2 separate regions of the Homo sapiens genome follow, and region 2 is linked to region 1. Evidence: fine-mapped expression QTL. Tissue or cell type: adrenal gland. Region 1 holds a variant in brackets; the other region holds the start of a gene. All regions are shown on one strand. Distances are from middle to middle.

Region 1 (11,096 bases):
CACGATTGATGCAAGCAAAAGCACCTGACCCAAACTGTATCAAACAGTATCTTTGATAAGATTTTACATATCGTTACAGGATCTTTGGGGTGTTGCTTTTCTGGCCAGAAACCTCTGTGGCTGGTGGCACCTTTCCCTGAGTGTTGCTCGGGCCCACTGAGCTTGTTCCACTCACTTGGCCTGGCAGGCCACGCTCGGCTCACGCCACCAGCCTGGACCCCACGACTCTGAGTGGGAGTCAGGCATGGAACAGCAAGGGGTGTGTGAACGAGTGTGGGGTCCAGCCACTGCACACAGTCAGACACGACAGCTGCTGCCATGGCACAGGCAGCTCCAGGTGCTGGGATGGGTGCCCACTCTCTGTGAGACTGCAGCTGGACCAGGTGCACCACAAGCAGCTTCCCTGGCTGGCACCAGGGAATGCAGTGGTGCCCGGAAGCCTGGAGACATCAGGAACCACAGGGCCCCAAAGAGGGAGTCACAGACCTGGCTTTGGGAGCCTCCAGGGCTGGGATCCCTGAAGGGCTGCATCTTTTCTCTCCTTCTCTTCACCTGCAACATAGCAAGTAAGGGGCATGTTTCAGCCCTGTTTGTGTTACAGCTCTTTTAGCCTCATTTGGCAAGTCCCAAGTTCTTGTCCCTTGACCAGAAAGAATAAGGTATACAAACAAGTGGAGGGTGAGCAAAATGAAGAGGAGCTATATTGAGCAATGAAACAGCTCTGAGGAGACTGGCAGTGGGCAGCTTCTCTCCCTAGCCAGGGTGTCCCAACAAGTGTTCAACTCTCAGGAGAAAGGGTAGCTCATCTCTGCAGCTGGTCCTCTAGTCATCTCCCCATTGTCTCCCCATCCTCTGCTTGAGTCTGGCTGAGTCTGGAGGATTTTATGGGCCTCAGAGGGGAGGAAGTGCATGCTGATTTGTCCATGGGCAGCCATGGGTGGGCACAGGGAAAAGCACCATAAGATCCCCCTCTGGTCCACCAGACTGATGGCCTGGCTCCCAGGCTTCAGGTCCTCCCTGCTTGAAGGTGGGGCCTCTCTGGAGACCAGCCCATTCTGCCCAGGAGCCTGTCTGCCTCCACTATGGTTCACAGCACCCAGGCTGTTCATGGCATCCAGGCTGTTCATGCTAAGGGGCGCCTGAAGGCCAGTGTGGGGCTGTCCCCAGGGCCCCCTTTGCCTCCCTCCCGTGCTTATTGGTGCCCGAAGTCCACAGGGGCTGAGGTGGCAGGGGGCTTGCATGTCAGTGCTGCCCCGAGTGTGTGAACGCAGCTGGGCTGCAAAAGTGTGCAGGCTCATCCCCCAACTTTGCTCAGAGATTGGGAGAGGCACCAACAGCTGGGCCAGGCCATGGGAGCAGCCACTTCTGAGCCTGTGGAAGGCAGGGGGTCTTCCCAGACCCCGAAGAGCACAGAGATGCCTGGGTCTGGAGCCGTGGCAGGGCACCTGCAGCAGCACCCAGGGAGTTCCCACCCCACCAACTAGAAAGGGGCAGGGCTCCCACTTGTCCCCTGCTCTGCCAGCTCCCTGGAGTGACCTCGCCACACCTCTTTGCAGCCTGGGGCGGGAGCCTGGCAACTGGGGGAAGGATGACGTTGCTGTGAGTTCTTTCTGTGTCCCCGGGCTCAGGGGAGGCCTGAGGTTCCTCCTCACCCAGCTGGCAACTCTGCCTGGGTGTGCCTCTGGGAGCGCCTCTGGGAGCCCATCATGAGCACCAGTCCGGCCTTCGGGAGCTTCAGGCTCGGCAGTCACCCCAATGTGGGGCCGACCCTGAGGACGTGGCCCTGGGTGGCCCCGCCAGGGCTTTCTCCCAAGGTGCATGACTGGTTTGTGGGCACGGTGGCTGGCTGCTCCCTGGTTCCTGTAGTGGGAGCCCCTCCCACTTCCCACCCCGGGCCCCTGAAGCATGGCCCCAGCTCCGCCCCCCGCCGGCCCCCACACTCCCCGTGGAAGCGTGGCACCACTCCAGGCCCAGCTCTCCCTCAGGGCCCCTCTCTGCCTGCCCCTTCCGTACCCGACTGCTCTGCTCCCCCACCAGCTGGAGACTCAGCCCGGCCCCATCACGGCGGCCCGCAGGACGGGGGGCTCCGGGGACTGTCCACCTCCTCCCCATGCTCTCCCTGCAGCCGCAGCGGGTGACAGCAGTGACGTAGGGCCACAGTCTAGAGCAGTGGAGGCTCCGGGCCTGGGAGTGGTCCAGCCTGGCTCCGTGAGGGTGGGGGTGGCACAGTCGGCTGCCCCAGGACTCGAGGCACAGGGGACTCGAGTCACAGCGGTCCCACCTATGGTGGCAACCACATTACTTTGAAAGAGAAAAAGTAGTATCCCTCCTCTAAGGTTGCTAAGCTAGGATGATGTGAGCCTGGGTCAATGGCAGGCCATTTCTCAACAAACTCATCACATTCCCCATGAAAGAAATAACTTCATAGCAAGTGGGAATGAAAGCAATAGAAAGAGAGAGATGTGGGGCTTTGAAATGGGTGGAGATAAATATTGACACCAAGGAGGGAGGGAGTGAGGGAGGAAAGAAGAAAATGAAAGAGCAAAAGTGAGTCTAACATTGTTGAGGCTCTGAAGATTCTAAACCCATATTGTGGATTTTCTGATTATATATGATTCAAGAACTTCCCAGTTTCTGAAGTCCAGAGAATTAACAGAGATCAGCATAAAAGTGGAGGAAGGGCCAGGTGTGCACTGGCTCACACCTGTAATCCCAGCACTTTGGGAGGCCGAGGCAGGTGGATCATTTGAGGTCAGGAGTTGGAGATCAGCCTGACCAATATGGTGAAACCCCATCTTTATTTAAAAATACAAAAAAAATTAGCTGGGTGTGGTGGCTCATGCCTGTAGTCCCAGCTACCTGGGAGGCTGAGGCAGGACAATTGCTTGAACCCGGGAGGCAGAGATTGCAGTGAGCCTAGATGGCACCACTGCATTCCAGCCTGGGGGACAGAGCAAGACTCCATCTCAAAAAAAAAAAAAAAAAAAAAAAAAAGACAGTGGAGGAAGAAGATTTTTCCTGTTATACCAGAAAATAGCTGGCCCCATGGAGCCTTTATAGGATACGGCCACTAGCACCTCGAGTGCCTCAGCACATTGATAACTGCATCCCTGCAGGGACACATCCAGAGCACGCGACTGTCACAGGTCAGAGCCTGAAAACGGGCATCTGGAAAAACAGATTTAGTAGTAGCAAGATGCAGCAAATGTCATTAAAATTGCTACGGTCTGAATGTTTGTGTCACCCCCAAGTTCATATATTGAAACCTAATCCCCAATGCAATAGTTTTAAGAGATGGGGACTTTTAAATCATGTGGATAGAGTGCTCATTAATAGGATGAATGCCCTTATAAAAGAGGCCTGAGAGAGCTTGTTTGCCCCTTCTTCCACATGAAGACACAGAGAGAAAGCACCATCTAGGAACTAGGAAATGAACCCTCACTAGACACCAAATCTGCTATAACTTTGATCTTGGACTTCCTAGCCTCCAGAACTATGAGAAACAAATTTCATTGCTTGCAATTACTCAATCTTACCCAGTCTAAAGCATGTTGCAATAGCAGCCTGAGTATTCTAAGACAGAAATAGTAAAAAGAAGCTTTGAAAGAAGTTGGGGTGGGGGTGAGAGTGTTTTGACATATATAATAGCACCCTTGATGCTGACCAGACATGGCAATTCTCACAAAGTATATAATCATTGATGTACCCAGTTGTAGACATATTAAAACAGGGGTGGGCAGAGTATAGAAAAGGAGAGGAAAAAAATTAATGGATGTCATATGGAAGCATAAGTGAGACACCCTCTGAGGCCTCCTACAAATAGATCCAAATAGGAGCAGGTCTTTGAAAGGAAAGCAGTCTTTTTGGTGGTTATAACTGTAATTGGGACTCTGTTTTGTTTGTTTGTTTGTTTGTTTGTTTTGAGACAGAGTCTCACTCTGTCGCCCAGGCTGGAGTCCAGTGGCGCGATCTCGGCTCACTGCAAGCTCCGTCTCCCGGGTTCACGCCATTCTCCTGCCTCAGCCTCCCAAGTAGCTGGGACTACAGGCACCCGCCACCACACCCGGCTAATTTTTTTTTTTGTATTTTTAGTAGAGACGGGGTTTCACCATGTTAGCCAGGATGATCTTGATCTCCTGACCTCGTGATCTGCCCGCCTCGGCCTCCCAAAGTGCTGGGATTACAGGCGTGAGCCACCGCGCCCGGCCTGGGACTCTGCTTTGACTCTCAGACGAAAAGATCTGAGAAAAATGAATTACACAAAGCTTCACATTCCCAACTGGCAAAAAACAAAAAAGTAACCATGCCCATGATAAAAGGAAGAATAAGGTGCTTTTCTTGAGTCATTTTGAGAGGCAAGAATCACTGAGCAAATAAGATTGACACAGGCATGTCAATAGTACTAAAAACAGGTACTGACTAAGATTGCATCCTCGGGAGGATCATCTAAAACTGAGCTGAGCCAAGGTCAGGATCAGAGCCAACACCTAGAGGAAGCAGGGCAATCAGACTGTGAGGACTGATCCAAGGATAGCGCTCACAGGGGCTGGCAGAAGAAGCAAAGACAAATTTATTGCAGCAGGGCCTCTTTCAATTCCTTGAATGGAAGACTGAATTCACATAGTGTAAGGGCAAGAATATCTCAATCCAGAATCTGGGACACAAGTTTATTTCCAAG[A/G]CCTCTTACAGAGGAAGAAGGTATTTGACTTGAGAACTAAGACACCCTTATAATCTCACCTTTCCAGTCTACTACTTAAGCTATAAAGTAAGAATATTGCTATATTTGTCTTTAAGGATAAAATGAGATGGGATGAAAGCACCATGAAAAGCTAAATGCATCAAAAATATGGAAATCATTGTAATGAGCAAAGCGTGGCAATGCCCTGTAGCCAAACTTGGCTGGACGCCGTCTCCCTCACCTTTCCATCTCTTTCCTCTCTTCTCTTGGTCTATGCTAACTCCATTTAACATAGAAAGGAATCCCATTCCTTTCTCAAATCACACAGGCCATACATATTGGCACACACACACACACCCTGGTATGTCATGGATGATGCTTGTCTTACCAAATCTGCACTAGTCTAGGAGTAGCTGCTGGTGGCTGATGTCTGTTCTGATTGACAGTGTCTTGCAGTACCAGTGATGAAAGATTTTGAAGGTCATCCCTGTTTGCCTGCATAGTGGTTTCTTTTTGCACAATTTTATATATTTTTTAAATTTTACTTGGGAGAGATGGACTATTGAATTTGCCCCTGTTCTCAATATACTCCCTGCCCTCCCACAAGGCCTTTTTGACTGGAGTTGAGGAGCATTTTACTGCTCAACTTGCACTAGGATATTTTAAAGAGAACAAATCTCTAAATAAATAATGGGGCTGCAAATAGACATGATATGATTTTACACTTTACTAATTGTAGACAAGAGACTGGGCGTGGTGGCTCACACCTGTAATCCCAGCACTTTGGGAGGCCGAGGTGGGCAGATCATCTGAAGTCAGGAGTTCGAGACCAGCCTGGCCAACATGGTGAAACCCCATCTCTATTAAAAATACAAAAATTAGCCAGGCGTGATGGTGTGCATCTGTAATCCCAGCTACTTAGGAGGCTGAGGCAGGAGAACTGCTTGAACCCGATAGTTGGAGGTTGCAGTGAGCCAAGATCGCGCCACTGCACTCCAGCCTGGGTGACAGAACGAGACTCCATCTCAAAAAAAAAAAAAAAAAAAAAAAGGAATTGTAAACAGGCATGTAGGCAGTCAACAGGAGTGCATTTAGAGAGTCTAGTCACTGGTGAGCAATATTTTCACCCCCTCCTCCTCCTGCCCCCTGGCTGCCCTTTAAGTGGAAGTGAAAGTTCCTAAGAAATTTATTGTTTAACATTTATAGGAAATTGCTCTTCTCATGTTACTATATGAACTTTGGTGAGAGGTAAGGATGAGAATTTTCTATCTCTGCCAACAGTTAATGTTGATAAAGGTTTTAATTTGAGGAGTTTTGCTAATTAAGTCATTAACTGATGTGAGAAAACTCTTAATGAGACAAATATTTTGGATGAGGGAATTCCACAGCATTTTACAATGCTTTTATTTAGAGCAGAAGTGGGAAACATGTTTCCGTTTACAACCACCATCATATTCAATACAGTAAAATAGATGCGGGTCATAACAGCAAGTGCCCCCATGTTGTCATGAAAAAGATGCTGGTGCCAAAGAGCCAATTAGTTGCAGCCCTTACTCTTTAAATAACCACCAGACATCATTTTCCGTCTGAAACCTCCTTATTCTGAAATATAAATGAGTAACTGATGAGCCAGTGAAGGAGAGAGATTTCCATCCTTCCAGAAATTCAGGTGTAAATGAATGGGGCTTCGGCTGGTGAAACCTACTCACAGGGAAAACATTAACATTTTAACAAAAGTGTAGGTAACTTTATTTTATTTTGGAGAGAAATGGAGTTAACAGTGAGGCATGTTGGATTTGAAAAACTGGTGATAATAGAAAGAAAAATATAATACATCAATACAGAATTTCTGCCTGCAAGAAGACTGAAAAAAAAGGGAAAAAGGCTTTTTCCTTCTCCCAACATCTGCCTCCAGGCTGAGAACAAATTATCTGTAACCATCAGAAAAGGGGCGGCTTTCTCTCTAATGTCAGTCAAGATGTGAGGATGAAAGAGACGGATGGAGCTGGAAACCATCATTCTCAGCAAACTATCACAAGGACAAAAAACCAAACACCGCACGTTCTCACTCATAGGTGGGAACTGAACAGTGAGAACACTTGGACACAGGAAGGGGAACATCACACACCGGGGCCTGTAGTGGGGTGGGGAGAGTGGGGAGGGATAACATTAGGAGATATACCTAATGTAAATGACGAGTTAATGGGTGCAGCACACCAACATGGCACATGTATCCATATGTAACGAACCTGCACGTTGTTCACATGTACCCTAGAACTTAAAGTATAATAAAAAAAAAACATATATATATATATATATATATATATATATAAAAGAGCACATCCAAGGGGCATCACTGAGGAGAGTTTTAATGAAGGGGCTACGTCAAAACTATGTGAAGGTCGATGAAAACCAACAAGGGGTTTATTGTACCTTGTAGGGCTATTGCCACCCTTAGACCCAAGGGACAAGCAGAGGGAGCCCACAGAGGAGCTCAGAGGGCACTTGAGGTTGGAGAAAGGGCCAGCTGATGGGAGTATGACCTTTGATGAAGATGTGCACTCGCTCAGGGTATCCTGGCAGAGAGGGATCCAGAAAATGCACTTGACCTTGCCTTTCTACCACTCTCTGACCTCTTCTCAGTGCTTCCAATGGTCCAACTCTAAAAGAAACCAGAGAACAAGGAACCTATTGATGCAGCACAAATGAATCAGCCTCCCAGGAACAAAACAAACTCAAGAAAGGCAGAGTGCATGCAGGGAGGTAAGCTGAAAACCTCCAGCACAAGTCTATGGGGTGCTTGATGCTTTCTAAGGTTGCAGTAATATATGCAACAGATGTACGCTTTCCCTCTCACTCTCTCTCTACACACACACACGAACACACACACACTGAGTTTTACCCTCTCCCCTAATTCTGCTATCCGTGCCTCTATTTATTCTGAAACTAATACTGTCTCCCAAACAGCTAAGGAAAAGAAAGGCAGAGGGAGAGTTCTTTAACCACAATTAAATTAAGTCTGAAATCACTTTGTATGTGTGTGTGTGTATTTATATATTCATATGGAAAATCACTCAATCAGTAATCAATACACACATAAATTTAAACTAAATGAAAATAAAAACACAAATATCAAACTTTCTGGAATGCAAGTAACCCAGTGCTTACAGGGAAATTGTAGCATAAAATACATATATTAAGGAGGAAGAAAATTCGAGTAGCTAAGCTTCCTCCTTAAAGATTGAGAGGAAATGAGCAAATCAAGCTTTAGAAAAGTAGAAAGAAATGGAATAACAAAGATAAGAGAAGTAATCAGTGAAATAAAAAGCACATGACAGATAAAACTAATACAAACAACAGCTGGTTATTTGAAAAATTAAACAAAATTAATAAAATTCTATTTAGACTGATAAAAAAGAAGGAAGACATGTTTTCCAATATCAGAAATTTAAAGTGATGCAAGGAGATCATCATAGATAGTACAGCTATTAAAGATAATAGAATATTATAAATAACTTTGTATCAATAAATTCAATAGCTTAGAAGAAATGGAACAATGCATTAACAGACACAAATTTCCAAAACTGACTCAACAAGCAAAAGAACATTTGAATAGCCTAATGTCTATTTTTAAAAATTGTATTTGTAATCTAAAAACTTTTCAAAAAAGAAAATTCCAGACCTCTACAGCATCACTGATGAATGCTCTCTAACATTTAAAAAAAGAGATAGAGGGCCAGGCGCGATGGCTCACACCTGTAATCCCAGCACTTTGGGAGGCCGAGGAGGGCAGATCATGAGGTCAAGAGTTTGAGATCAGCCTGGCCAACATGGTGAACCCCATCTGTACTAAGAAAACAAAAATTAGCCAGGTGTGGTGGTGCATGTCTGTAATCCCAGCTACTCAGGAGGCTGAGGCAGGAGAATCACTTGAACCCGGGAGGCGGAGCTTGCAGTGAGCTGAGATTCGCCACTGAACTCCAGCCTGGGCGACAGAGCAAGACTCCATCTCAAAAAAAAAAAAAAAAAGAGAGAGAGAGAAGTAGAATTCACCCTACACAAACTCTTTCAAAAAATAGAGGAGACAATGCTTTCTAGATTTATTTAATGTTACCAAGGCTACCATGGTTATAAAATCAGAGAAAGACATTATTAAAAAAAAAAAAGAAGAAGAAGAAAACCATAGCTCACTCTCCCTCTTGGACATAGACACAAAATTCCCTAGCAAAATATCAACCAATTGAAACCAGCAATTTATAAAAACAACAGCACTGACATTAGAGGCTCTGGAACTCTCAGTGAAGCCAAGGTAATGGGAGAAGGCACAAAAGGAAGCATCATCCCCATGGCACCTACACAGGTCTAGGGCTCAGCTGCTGAGCCCCTGCGAAGATGACAGCGTTGAGTCTCCACTCTGGTCTCTTGCCTCCCACTTCCCCACTCTGCCTATAGATTTCTATGGCAGCAACCGTGTTGATGCACTCAGAAGAGGATTCCACCTCTGTAAAAACATTTACTTTGAGGACATGGCCATGTATTTCTCCCAAGAGGAGGGAAGGTTCCTCAGTGATGGTCAGAGACTCCTATACCATGATGTGATGCTAGAGAACTTTGCACCATGGCCTCACTGGGACTTGCATCTTCTAAGTCTCATGTAGTTGCCCAAGTTGAATACGAGGGAGACCTCATGCTTCAGCCTCAGAGAAAGGGCCTGGGACAGAACCCACTCCTGTGCTCTCAAACACTGGCCTACACTGAATGTCTCTGGAGGTATGCACATATGCCTTTAGCAGTCCTTGGACACCAGCTTGTCAGTTGCAGTCAGATTTTCCTGAGTCTAGGCACCACCTCTGCACTGTGTTCAGCACCCCCACCACTGGTAAAACCCATTTGCAGAGGAGTATGTTGGAGGTCAGCCTCTCCACCTGTGCTACAGCTCAGCCATGTGCCCACTCTCTGGTTGTTGGTATGAAACAGAGGCTTAGGAGGCACTTCAGCAGAGGAATTCTGTGGAAGGAGAGTCACAGTGAGTCCCAAGCCCAGCTCATCCACCCAGAAGGCCCGCTGTGTGAAATGTGGGAGAGGGTCTTGAAAGATATTTGACCCGTGTGCCAGGGAAGGCATCCCGGAAATGGTACACCTATGGGGCATGAGGAAGATGGTTATGAGTCACTGCAAGCCTTCACCAGCATCAGGAGTGGTACAGTGGGGAGAAACCCTCAAGAAATTTTAAAAACATCTGCTCTTCTAAAGATACCATGGAGATAAAAAGCAAGCTACATACTGGGAAAATTATTCTTAATGCAGATATCTGATCCTAAATGTGGATCCAGAATATATAAAGAGCTCATAAAACTCAATAGCAAAAAATAATAATAATAATTTATTTAACAAAGGGCAAAATATTAGAAGACACTTCCCAGAAAGGTATGTAGAAATAAGAAACAGGCACATGAAAATATGCTGAATATCATTCGTCATGAGGCGAATACCATTTTTCTCATCATGGAATCTTTCACTCACGAAATATTCATAAGGCATCTATTATGTTCCAAACACTCTAGGCACTGAGAAATGATAAAAAAGATAAATGACTCCTCTCATACCATACACAAAAATTAACTTAAAATAAATAATAGGTTTAAATGAAAAGGCTACAACTATAAAACTTAGAAAAAAGCATAAGAGTAAATCTTCATGCCCTTGGGTTAAGCAAAGCCTTCTTATATATGACACCAAAAGCACAAGTGACAAAATAAAAAGTAGATAAATTTAACTTCATCAAAGTGAAAAATTGTTGTGCTTCAAAGAACATCATCAAGAAAGAGAAAACAACCTACAGGATGGGAGAACATTTTCACAATCTATCCATCTGACTAAGGTCTAGTATCCAGAGTTGACAAATAACTTAAACAAATTTACAAGAAAAAAACAAACAACCCCATTAAAAACTAGGCAAAGCACATGAACAGACACTTCTCAAAAGAAGACATTCATGCAGCCAAAAAAAATATGAAAAAAAAGCTCAACAACACTAATTATTAGAGAACTGCAAATCGAAACCAAAATGAGATACCATCTTACACCAGTCAGAATGGCAATTATTAAGAAGTCAAGAAGCAACAGATGCTGGTGAGGTGGCAGAGAAAAAGGAACACTTGCACACTGTTGGTGGGAGTGTAAATTAATTCAACCATTGTGGAAGATCTAGAAGCAGAAATACCATTTGACCCAGCAATCCCATTACTGGGTATATATCCAACGGAATATAAATTATTCTAATACAAAGATACATGCATGCATATGTTCATTGCAGCATTAGTCACAATAGCAAAGACATGGAATCAACCCAAATGCCCATCAATGATAGAAAAGAAAATGTGGTACATATACACCATGGAATACTATGCAGCTATAA
Region 2 (11,096 bases), 100 kb before region 1:
TAAGCAGTCATAAATGATACAGAAGCAAACAGGTGTGGCTGCACACCAATAAAACTGTGTTTATGGACAATGAAATTTGATTTTCATAAAACTTGACTGTGTCAGAAAACATTCTTTTTCTTTTTCTTTTTTTTTGTCCCAACCATTTGAAAATATAAAGCCATTCTTAGCTCAGGCAGTACAAAAACAGGTGGTGGGCTAGATTAGGTCCAGGGGCCCTAGTTCGCCCACTTCGTTCTACTCTTCACCCCCCTGCCCCCCCGCCCCCCCGCCCCCCTCGCTTAGACGGAGGAGTCTCGCTCTGCTGCCCAGGTTGGTGTGCAGTGGCGTGATCTTGGCTCACTGCAATCTCCACCTCCCAGGTTCAAGCAATTCTCCTGCCTTAGCCTCCCGAGTAGCTGGGATTACAGGTGTGCACCACCACGCCTGGCTAATTTTGGTATTTTTAGTACAGATGGGGTTTCACCGTGTTGGCCAGGCTGGTCTTGAACTCCTGACTGCGTGATCCACCTGCCTCGGCTTCCCAAAGTGCTGGGATTACAGGCATAAGCCACCGTGTCTGGCCCACTTCACTCTATTCTAAAAGCGCAACAAGTATTTGTTGATGGTAACAACACATTTGTACTACTGAAAATAATTTGACAACTAAGGATCAGTCCAGCATCCCCCACTGCCTCTTCCCATCTTCTTTATTTGAAAACTACCTATGTTGTAGCAGCTCCCTACCTGCCTTAATCAAAAGCCACTGTACACCAAGCCCAATTAAGTTCACTTACTGAACACTTTAACTAGAGTTTCAATGCATCTCTTCATAAATAGGGATAAAGCAGCATCCTGGCTAAAGGCACCAGGGTTACCAATGGCAGGAACAGGGGCCAGGCATGGTGGCTCATGCCTGTAATCCCAGCACTTTGAGAGGCTGAGGTGGGAGACAGCTTAAGGCAACAAGTTTGAGACCAACCCAGGCAACAAAGCAAGACCACGCTCTCCAAAGAAAAATGAAAAAAAAATTGGCCAGGTGCGGTGGTGTGCGCCTGTAGTCCCAGCTCCTCAGGAGGCTGAAGTGGGAGGATCAACTAAGCCCAGGAGTTAGAGGCTGAAGTGACCCACGATAGTGTCACTGCACTCCAGACTGAGTGAGAGAGCGAGACCCTATCTCCAAAAAATAAAAATAAACAAAAAGGAACAGGAACTGAGCTGTCACATGGATCCCACATTTACAAAGCAGCAAAAGGTACTAAAAGTTTGTATACTGCATGAATACAAAAATTATTTTTTGTTTTGTTTTGTTTTTATGTTTCTTTGTTTTTTTGAGATGGAGTCTTGCTCTGTCGCCAGGCTGGAGTACAGTGGTGCAATCTTGGCTCACTGCAACCTCCGCCTCCCGGGTTCAAGCCATTCTCCCACCTCAGCCTCCTGAGTAGCTGGAACTACAGGTGCATGCGAACACACCAAGCTATTTTTTGCATTTTTAATAGAGATGGGGTTTCACCATGTTGGCCAGGATGGTCTTGATCTCTTGACCTCGTGATCTGCCTGCCTCGGCCTCCCAAAGTGCTGGGATTACAGGCGTGAGCCACCGCGCCTGGGCAAAAACTGTATTTTTACCCAACAGTTGTCATCATAACATGGCCTTGCTTTGGGGAATGAATAAAGAAGTAAACTTTAGTAAATCAACATCACAAATTGTTCTTAAGAATGAACGACACTGTCCAAAGTTTTAGATGGCTACCAAAGTTTAATAATTATTTCTTACTCCCCAAATATCACCTGGACATTATTTCCTCAATCCTTGGGGAAAAAAAAAAAACACAGTATAGAAGTTCTGTGGGAAATTCTGCAGTCTATAATACCTCCTTTTTTTTTGTATACAACTCTTCTTTCTGAAAAGCTCAAAACTGTATTGCAGTGTTTCACTCATTCTCATAAGATTCCTATGCAGATGTTGCCGTATCTTTTAGAATGAAGGGTGATGGAGTTCAGGGCATGCGACCCCCAAACAGGGCACCTTAGCATTTGAGAAAACAGCAGAAGCAGGAAGATCATTCTCGCCTTCCTCTTAACCTTCTTCCCTGAAGCTCTGCCCTTCCTTTGAAGAAGACCCTCATTACAAGGGAGCCCATCCTATATCCTGAGAAAAGGAATGCTCTATCTTTGAAGACACAGAGATTCCAAGAAAAATCTGAACAAATAGGCCTTGCTAAATTCCTCCAGTTATTTAGCTTTTTAGATCATATCCTCTTTGTTCTTTTTTTTTCCCCCTCCAAGACAGAGTCTTGCTCTGTTGTCCAGGCTGGAACACAGTGGCTCAATCACAGCTCACTGCAGCCTCAAACTCCTAGACTCAATGCCTCAGCCTTCTAGGTAGCTGGGACTACAGGCACACGCCATCACTCCGGGCTAATTTTGTTAACTTTTAGTAGAGATGAGGTCTCACTCTGTTGCCTAGGCTAGAGTGCAATGGTGCAATCATAGCTCACTGCAGTCTTGAACTCCTGAGCTCCAGCAATCCTTCCACCCTGGCCTCCCAAAATGCTGGGAGTACCTGTGTGAGCCACCGTGCTCAGTCAGATCATATCCTTTTGTTCTCCAATCATTCGTCTACACAACTGTCCTAAAAATACATAAACTTCCCTGTTTCTTGGGGTCTTCATTTCTAAAGGCGTCTATGTCATCTAAAACTTATATTAACTAAATGTGTGTGCTTTTATCTTGTTAATTTGCATTTTATTATAAGTTCCCCGGCCATGAACCTTATGATGGGTGAGAAATCTTTTCTTTCCTACAAAGGGAAATAAAGAGATGTTAAATTGTTTGCTGGAAATAATTCAGAGTCTTTGGCAAAGCACAGAATGAGAAGACTATTGCTGAATTACCAACCTAAGCCTTCTTCCAAGTAGACCATGAAGACTTTACTCAGTTCCTTCCAGAAACGGAAGTTTGTACATTCTGGGGTGAGAAGATTCTGACATAAAAGCACTCATGGGCCTGTGTTACAACAATGACTACCAATAACAGCATCTTTGTAATGCTCATTGTTAGCATTCTGAATAAGTCAAGGATTGACTGTACTGATTAATTAGGTAACAATTATCTCAGTGATTTGCCTTCAAAAGGACTAGAAGTGTTAAGAAAAGAAAAAAAAAAAGCACAACATGTCTAATATCCACCCAAAAAACGAAAAGCGATTGCAACTCATTTTATTTGGTTGGCGCTTTTCCAGAAAATATTTTCCTAGTAATGAAGCACATCAGCTTTACTCTAAAAAATTGTCTGCTTCCAGCAAGTGATTTAAAATATTGTTTGTTTCCAGCACACAATTTAACATCTCTTTATTTCCCCTTGTAGGGAAGAAAAGATTTCTCACCCATTATAAGATTCATGGCCAGGGCACCTATGATAATTTGAAGACTTTAAAAAACATCAAATGAATCAAATAATGGGTAATTATAATTTTGAAACCTTAAGAAATATCAAATGTGTCAAATAATGGGGCAGTACAAAGCCAACAGAAGAGTACTTTTCATTTAGAATAGTTGTATTCATATAACAAGAATTCATTGATGTGCTAACTTTACAAACCAAGAGGCACCTTTTTCATTTAGTTTATCCTTAAGTGCCCCTTGCACTGATTTCTTAAATGAACACTTGTTTTGCATGAATACAGACTTTCTTAGGAACTACAAAGCAATCTGAATACCAATAATAAGACGTCTATTCCCACCCCACCCCTTTCTTAAACAGAAACTATCCCTTTTTCTAATTCTCCTCTGGGAAGAATATTTCATCTATTCAAGATTATAAACTAATTTTTAACATTTAATTAGACAATATGATGTTAAGACTATACATGAGTCACGAAAAATCCCACCCAGATAAAAGCAAACCTTTTTCCTCAAAACTGTTCTTATTCTTGTTCTATCCTCACAATATCATTAGTAAGAAAACACCACACGCTATAAGCATCCTTCGAAATGTTTACCCAACATTGTGACCCAGTTGTAAACTTTCTGTAGCCCCATGGAAACACTTACTTCTGGGAAGAATGAATGACTCTCAATATAGCACAAATATACTCCAAAGGAAAGGCATGGTGACTCCTAAATGATCTGAGGAACAGAGGACTAGGTAAAGACAATGGAGGCAGAGTTATGGAAAGAAAAATTAAATTGTATTGGCAAGGGAACAGGCATTCTTTGGAAAGTGAGATAACAGGTCTGTCTTGTCTAGCGCTACATTTAACAGTTTTTTAGATCTCACAATACAAGCTAGAATTCCACTTCTGTTTATTTCAGGGTAGATTTACATCAGTTTAGTAATTCACCCCAGACCTCTGAATAATTGTTTCATGTGATCTACATGAATAGTGTATTATTACTCATTACCAAGTAATTACCAAGATAGTCAACAAGATATAGCCCAAAGGGAATTATACACAATAATTTGGGTGGTGGAGGGGGGTGGGGAGGAAGGAAGAGTTGGGAGTCACACAAAGGGATGTGATTCACCTGTAAAGGTTGAGGGTGGGGGGTTACAAAGTGGTCCTGGCAGAGAAATCACAAGGCCCAGGTTCCAGGACGACACTGGTAACTAGGAAGTGTGTGACCTTGTGCATGACGAGATGGATTATTTCAAAGATTGGATCTCATAGATCAAAAGAAGGGACTGTGCTGAACGCTCTTTCAGATTCCTCCCACTGTCCAAATACCAATTGATATCTCCACTCTGGGTATGTGCCTTACTAGGTCCGGCTGGGGAAATTCGGCCTTCATTCATCTGATCTGGCACAGTGACCGAGCCCTGGGGCATGCGCCCGGCCTCATCTTTCACCTGAGGAGGCTCCTCCATGGCCGGGCGCCCCGCGGGTGAGTCGTACGGGGACGTGGCGCTTCGAAGTTTATGGGGAGCCTCGCACACCTCAAGTTGAAGGAACTGCTGAATCAGGGTGCCCCAATTAAGTCAGATCTTAGGCAATCCTATGGTTCCTTTACTCTCCCTCACCCTTCCTCCTACTCTGAAAAGAAACCGGATCGGCCTGTCCGCCCAGAGGTCACCTGGGAAGAGCAGAGTGATGTCACTCGGCTACCCCCAAAACTGCCTCCAAGGTACAAAAGAGCTGGAATATCTGTGCATGGTCCAAAGGGACGGCACACTCCGGAAGGTGACCCTTTAGAAGGTATTATTACCAGACTGCAGCCTCGGCCTCTGGGATGGGTGCGGGAGGAAGGTGGTGAGTTTCCATCATCCCGCTGCCTTGCCGCACGGCGGCCAGGTGCTGCTACACATTCAAACCCGACAGTTTGGCTTAGTGGGTTGCGAAAAAAGAACTCAAGGGGAGGAAGCACCTGCAGCCACCCAGGCCGAAGTTAGGGACCACTTCCCCAGAGTTACGGACGGCAACAACCAAGTCACGTCTGGAGTCACCTCTCTGGCTTCCGGCTCCGCAGGGCTTGCCCTCCCGAGTCACCCAGGCAGAGGCCGGGGACGCCAGTAAGGGGAAGGTCGGAGGGTCGGGAGGACAGTGAGGGGAGGCGGGCTGGAGGAGCCGGGATGGCGAAAGGTGGGGGGTGGGGTGGGAGGGTTAGAGGGGCCCGGGGCGCCGGGGCCGGGGTGTGTGGGTTGTGGGCGAGGTGGCCGGGGCGGCCAGGGGGCGCGCAGGATACCCTACCTGTGGTGGAGAGCACGGTGCTGGCGAAGAAGAGCGCGGAGGTGAAGTCCCAGTTCCAGTTGCCCGAGGCGTTGCTGAGCACCGACACGCCGTAGTTGCTGGCCTCCAGCACCCGGCCCAGGAACTGCTCCAGCTGCTGCTCAGACAGGCACTCGTGCTCCTCCAAGAAGCGTCGCTTCAGCTTGCGCAGCTCCTGGCGCAGCAGGTCCTCATAGGGCAGCTCCACCGAGGAGAAGACCACTGCGCCGAAGACCAGGTAGAGCAAGTAGCCCAGCACCAGGAAGCCGAAGCACCAGGCCGAGCGGTGCCGCTCCACCAGGCGCACGCACGAGCTGCCGGCCAGGGACTGCAGCATCTTCTCCACCGCCGCCGCCAAGGCCAACGCCGCAGACCGGCCGGAGCGCGGCCCGCCGCCTCTTCTGGCCCCGCCGCCCCCGCCCCCGCCCGGGCCTGGCTCCCGCCCGCCGCCCGCTCCCCCGCGCGCCCGCCCGCCCCGCTCCTCCGGGCAGCGCCGTCTTCCTGCGATTGGCTCTCTCGGGCGATGTTTTTCTTCCTTCTTTTCCTGTTTCCTTGCAATATAAAAAGCCCAGATGATGTGGCGCTGACGTGGTTGCCGGCTCAGGTAACCCGAGAGTCAGCGGAGACCGCGCGCAAACTTGGCCAGAGCGCCTGGGCTGGGCTGCCGGGGCCCGGGACGCACCGCCTTCTGCGCACTCCAGAGGTGGGGCGGGCGCTCGGTGGCGCCCAGACCCCGACCCGACAGCCACCAGCTCCTCCCGCTCCCTCCCTTCCTGGGTCCAGTAGCCAAACTCTAGCTGACCGCGCGCGGCGTGTGCGTGTGTGTGTGTGTGTGTTCGCGCGCGTGTAGTGTGGGCCGCTTCTGGTCAATGCGCTGGCCGTCCAAGCCCCCTGTCCAAGCTACTCTTGTTTCCCACTTATTTTCTCCCAATCAAAGCCAGTATTACAAAACAGCAAGCGCTGAAGTACTTTCCTTCTTTGTCTTATTGGTCGAAGGATTGAGCAATCTGGTGCCAGTAATGACGGTGAAAATACCAGAACATCAGAGTTGGAAGGCTCCTTGAATCAGTCTCCTCTCTCCCACCCATCCCCCTCACAAAAAGGACTTGAGGGAAAAGGAGAGTCTCAGAGAAGTCCTATTTCTGAGTTCGAATTTTCTAAAACATGACCTTAGGTTTTTTGGTGAAAAAACATCCCAAATGTGTCAACTGCCAGAAGAAACTGAGCTTTCCCAACTGTCACTTCTTTTTAAAGTGACAAAAATGTGGGCGAGGGTCAGCGAGCCGCCTGCTTGTGGATGAAAATAAAAATTGGTACACCCTTTCTGGAAAGGCAATTTAGCGACACGTCTCAAGAACCTTGAAAGGGTTTATTTGTTCTGATTCAGTGATATGTCCTAAGAAAAAACAATCAGAGAGGCACTTACTTACAAAGACTGGTCATAGACGGTATCTATATATACATACATGTAGTTGTATAATATAGTGCATACACATGTGGGACACACACACACACACACACACACACACGGTATAGATGAAATAATGAAGACTCAGAACAATCTAAATATTCCAAAATAGAGAATGGTTAAATAAGTTATGGCATCTCTACAGCATGGACACCATATAGACATTAAACACATTAAAGTTGTGTCTAAAGACTATTGAAGCAAAACTGTGTAGAATCTCAAATATGTAAAATATTTGTATTTTGTTACAAAATAAAATGACATCTGCATTATTAATCAACTGCATAGGAATAAAACTATCTCCTTGCAGTTGTCTTTGGGTAATAGTAGAGTATATAGATGACTTTCCTTTCTTGTACCTTTTAATATTTTTCAAATTTTCTACAGTGGATATATATTATTTTTGTAATCAGGAAAAACATTTAAAATACACAAAACTGAATTGTACAATTAATCATTCCAACACCTAGCTGAACATTTGCCTACTTTACTGAAGTTCTCTAAACAAGTCATATTTTGTATTTTCATAGAAACTTGTGCAAATGTCTAACATATATATCAGTGATTTTTCACTTTTAGTCAATAGCCTTACCTCCTACGTTACTCAAAAGATTGAAGCCAGCCCTCCACTTTACTTCTCTGTACTTCAAAATTTACTCATCGGTAATCCATTTCTTCCCTTTGCTCTTACCCCTAAGGAAAAAATGTACCTCCTTATTTTCAAGGTGAAAGGAAGCACTTACCACTCTCAGTCCTTCCGCCTCTGGGAACCCTTCCCCATCAGCAAGTGCCCTACTCTTTTAGAACTTGAATTCCTCCTTCTCCCTCAAGTCTCCATCCTACAATGTCCTTCCCTGTCCTGCTCTGTAACCCTTGCTTGCCCTATCCTATCCTTGATCTTTGCCTATTTGCCCTGTTCAGAGACCTCTTCATTCATGAGGCTACCCCCGGCCGTAGCAGACCCTCAGAATTCTCCTCCTGCCTGTCATGATCATTTTTCTCCCTATGTCTCTGCTCACCTGATTCCTTCTGCTTGGACAGTTCCTCCTCCATCTCCATCTGTAACACAGTTTATATCCTTCAGGACCTGGCTCACTCATGAAACCTGTGATTCCCCAACAGGATGTGAGTTCCTCTTCCCAAGACATACAACCCTTTGAATGCCAGATTGTGTGGGGTACTTGTGATGAACTGCAGGTGCAGGTGTGGTTATATCATCACACTCAAATATACATACATGTATTGTGGGAAAAAGAGTTTCTGGAGTGCCAGTTGAGTTGTTCTCCCCTGTGTGAGACACCCATGGGGAGCCATGGGTGACCTCTGAGGAGAAAAGTCTCCTTATTGCCTTCATGTCTTTATGCCCTGAGAGCATAACTGCTCGGGGGCATTCCACAGGCTGCTCAGGGAGATAACACGCCCTGGAAGCAGTGGAGTATAATCAAACATCTTGGCTCCTCCTGAAACCCGCTCCCACCCCTTTCAGTCCCAATAAGTTAAAGATCTTAAGTAGTTTAGACACACGCAATCTTAAGTAGTTTAGACACACGCCTTTGCTCAAGGAAATTCACAGAGACCACCACTGCTGTACATCTTATTGAATGACTCACAAGTTCTCCTTCACTGATTAATCCTTTTCCTCATCCCTTCCTCCCCCTCCCATCTGCCCTAAGAACAAAGAGCTTGTAAAACAATAAATTAGTTGGAGCCCAAGAGCTCTGGGCCATGAGCAAGCCTCCTACACAACGGTCCCCTGGACCCACCTTTTAAATGCTTATTCTGCCTCTTTCTAACTCCTGTGTCTCCGCTGGACTCGGGGTACCCGCCGGTTGGTGTGGGGCTGGTTCCCCCAACATGTATATGGCAGCTTTGAAATATGGTTGCAAATTCTTTGACAGTCCCTCACCAAAGGGTAGGGTTTCTGTCCCCTATCCTTGAAACTTGTGACTACTTCAACTGACAGAGTACATAAGAGATGATACTAGGTAATTTCCAAGGTTAGATGATAAAAGACCAGCAGCCTCCAACTTTGTTCACTGGAACAATCCCCTCTTGGAGCCCTGAGCCATCACATAAGATGTCTGATTAACTTGAGGCTGTCATGCTGGAGAGGCCACATGTAGGTGTTTCAAGGGACAGCCCAGTGAGCCCAGCTTCCTTATCATTCTCGCCAAGACACCAGATAGATGAGTGTAGCCATCTTCAACTCTCAAACCAGGGCATCCACCTGCTGAATACCACTGGGTGTCTTACCTCTGTCTATCTACCCAGGAACAGAACTCCCAGCTGAGTTCTGCCTGAATCCTGAGATATCATCAGATGGCTGTCTTAAGCCATCGAGTTTTTGGCTAGCTTGTTATACAATAATAGATAACTGGAACAACATGCATCTTGACTACATTGAATTTTAAAAATTATTATTAGAAGTTTTCTTCAGACAAATTTGCCATTTTCTCCATAGTTCACTTCTCTGGCTGAGACTCTGCCCCAGCTCTACATCACAACTAGGCCAAGGATACCAAATATTTTTAAATCATATTATCCTCAGACTACAAGTAGAAACTGGAAATATCATGGAAGTGGTCTGATGGGGGCATAGATCTCATCCTGCAGGACGAGGTACGTTGAGTGGAGCCTGGATATGGGGCTGGGAAATGCAAAGACTTCTGAGGTTCTGGCTGTCTGAGTTGATGGGAATCCTGATAACACAGGTTGGCTGCCTTCCTTCCTCGTCCTGGGCCACTGCTCTAGACAGATGCTCCTGTCTTCAAAGAAGTTAGCAATCTCGGAAATGTTAGAATTTTTTCTTCTAAAGTTTGAAATCTTTACTCCACATGATCTGTGTGTAACTCACTGCTGACTAGCTACTTCTCTCTGGACCTCCCAACACGGATTAAAGGGACCATACAAGCTGACATTTCTGCTGACTCACCCCCACCTAGCATGCCACACGCTATCCCCAAGCATGTTTTAGAAGAGAATGGGAATATGGAAGAAAACTCAGAGAAGAGTGCAGAGATACAAAAGAGGGGATCAAGGGGAGTAGGAGTGGGGGAGTAAAGAGAGTGGGGGAAGAGGCCATGGCTTCTTTCTGCTTCCTGCATCAGTGTCCCCTCTAACTGACATAATTTGTGGACTGGTGACCATGCTTTCTGAGAAACAAACTCTGGGCTTGGCACAGAGCCTTGCAAGTTAATCTGATGTAGAGCTAATGATGTAAATGATCACTACTGTGTTGTATGATACTTGGGCATCAATGGGCTTCATGACCTCAACAGGTTGAGATGATGAGAATAATTTGTAGAGACAGTGGTTCTATAGGAACTTGGGATCAAAAAGTGAAATTTACAAATACAGGGTTGGGAAAATCCAGTCAATCAGCAACAAGTACAAAAAGTTAGCATTTGCAATTCCACCTCTGGGTATGTACCCAAAATAATTGGAAGCAGGGACTTGAACAGATATTTGTATACTCATGTTCATAGCAGCATGATTCACCGTAACTGAAAGGTGGAAGCAACCCAAGTGTCCATCCGCAGATAAACGGATAAAAATTATGATACATACATACAGCCATATAGTATTCAGTCTTAAGAAGGAGAGAAACTCTGACACCTGCTCTACATTTGATGAACCTTGAGGACATTATGCTAAGTGAAATAAGTCATTCACAAAAAGACAAATACTATATGATTCCACTGGTATGTGTACCTAGAGTAGTGAAATTCACAGAAACAGAAAGCGAAATGGTGGTTGCCAGGGGCTGGAAGAAGAGAGAAGGGGGATTGATTGTTTAATGGGTATGGAATTTCAATTGTTCAAAATGAAAAAATTCTGAAGATAAATGGTGGTTGTGATTGCGTAACAATGTGGATGTCCTTAATGCCACTGAATTGTACACTTAAAAATGGTTAAAATGCTAAATTTTATGTTATGTGTATT

Which allele goes with the higher level. Positions count from the first base shown, and alleles are read on the strand shown. Sizes are in standard deviations (SD) of each study's normalised expression.
In carriers of allele G in region 1, the expression in adrenal gland of the gene that starts at base 6,089 in region 2 tends to be lower than with A alone (small effect, 0.28 SD a copy in GTEx).

Evidence for each region.
Region 2: it holds the start of KCNK1, and the variant in region 1 is fine-mapped to the expression of KCNK1 in adrenal gland (GTEx, PIP above 0.99).

What each region holds. Positions count from the first base shown.
Region 1 is chr1:233,506,074-233,517,169 of GRCh38, reverse strand. No RefSeq gene overlaps it. Among named protein-coding and RNA genes, the nearest start is that of KCNK1, 100 kb to the left of the region's middle. The variant A/G (reference allele first, on the strand shown) is at 4,679.
Region 2 is chr1:233,609,099-233,620,194 of GRCh38, reverse strand. KCNK1 (potassium two pore domain channel subfamily K member 1) reads right to left here and starts at 6,089. Exons shown (of 3, transcript NM_002245.4): 1 at 5,669-6,089. The coding sequence starts at 6,023. RefSeq lists enhancers at 5,063-5,122, 6,311-6,963 and silencers at 5,593-5,652, 5,993-6,062, 6,423-6,522.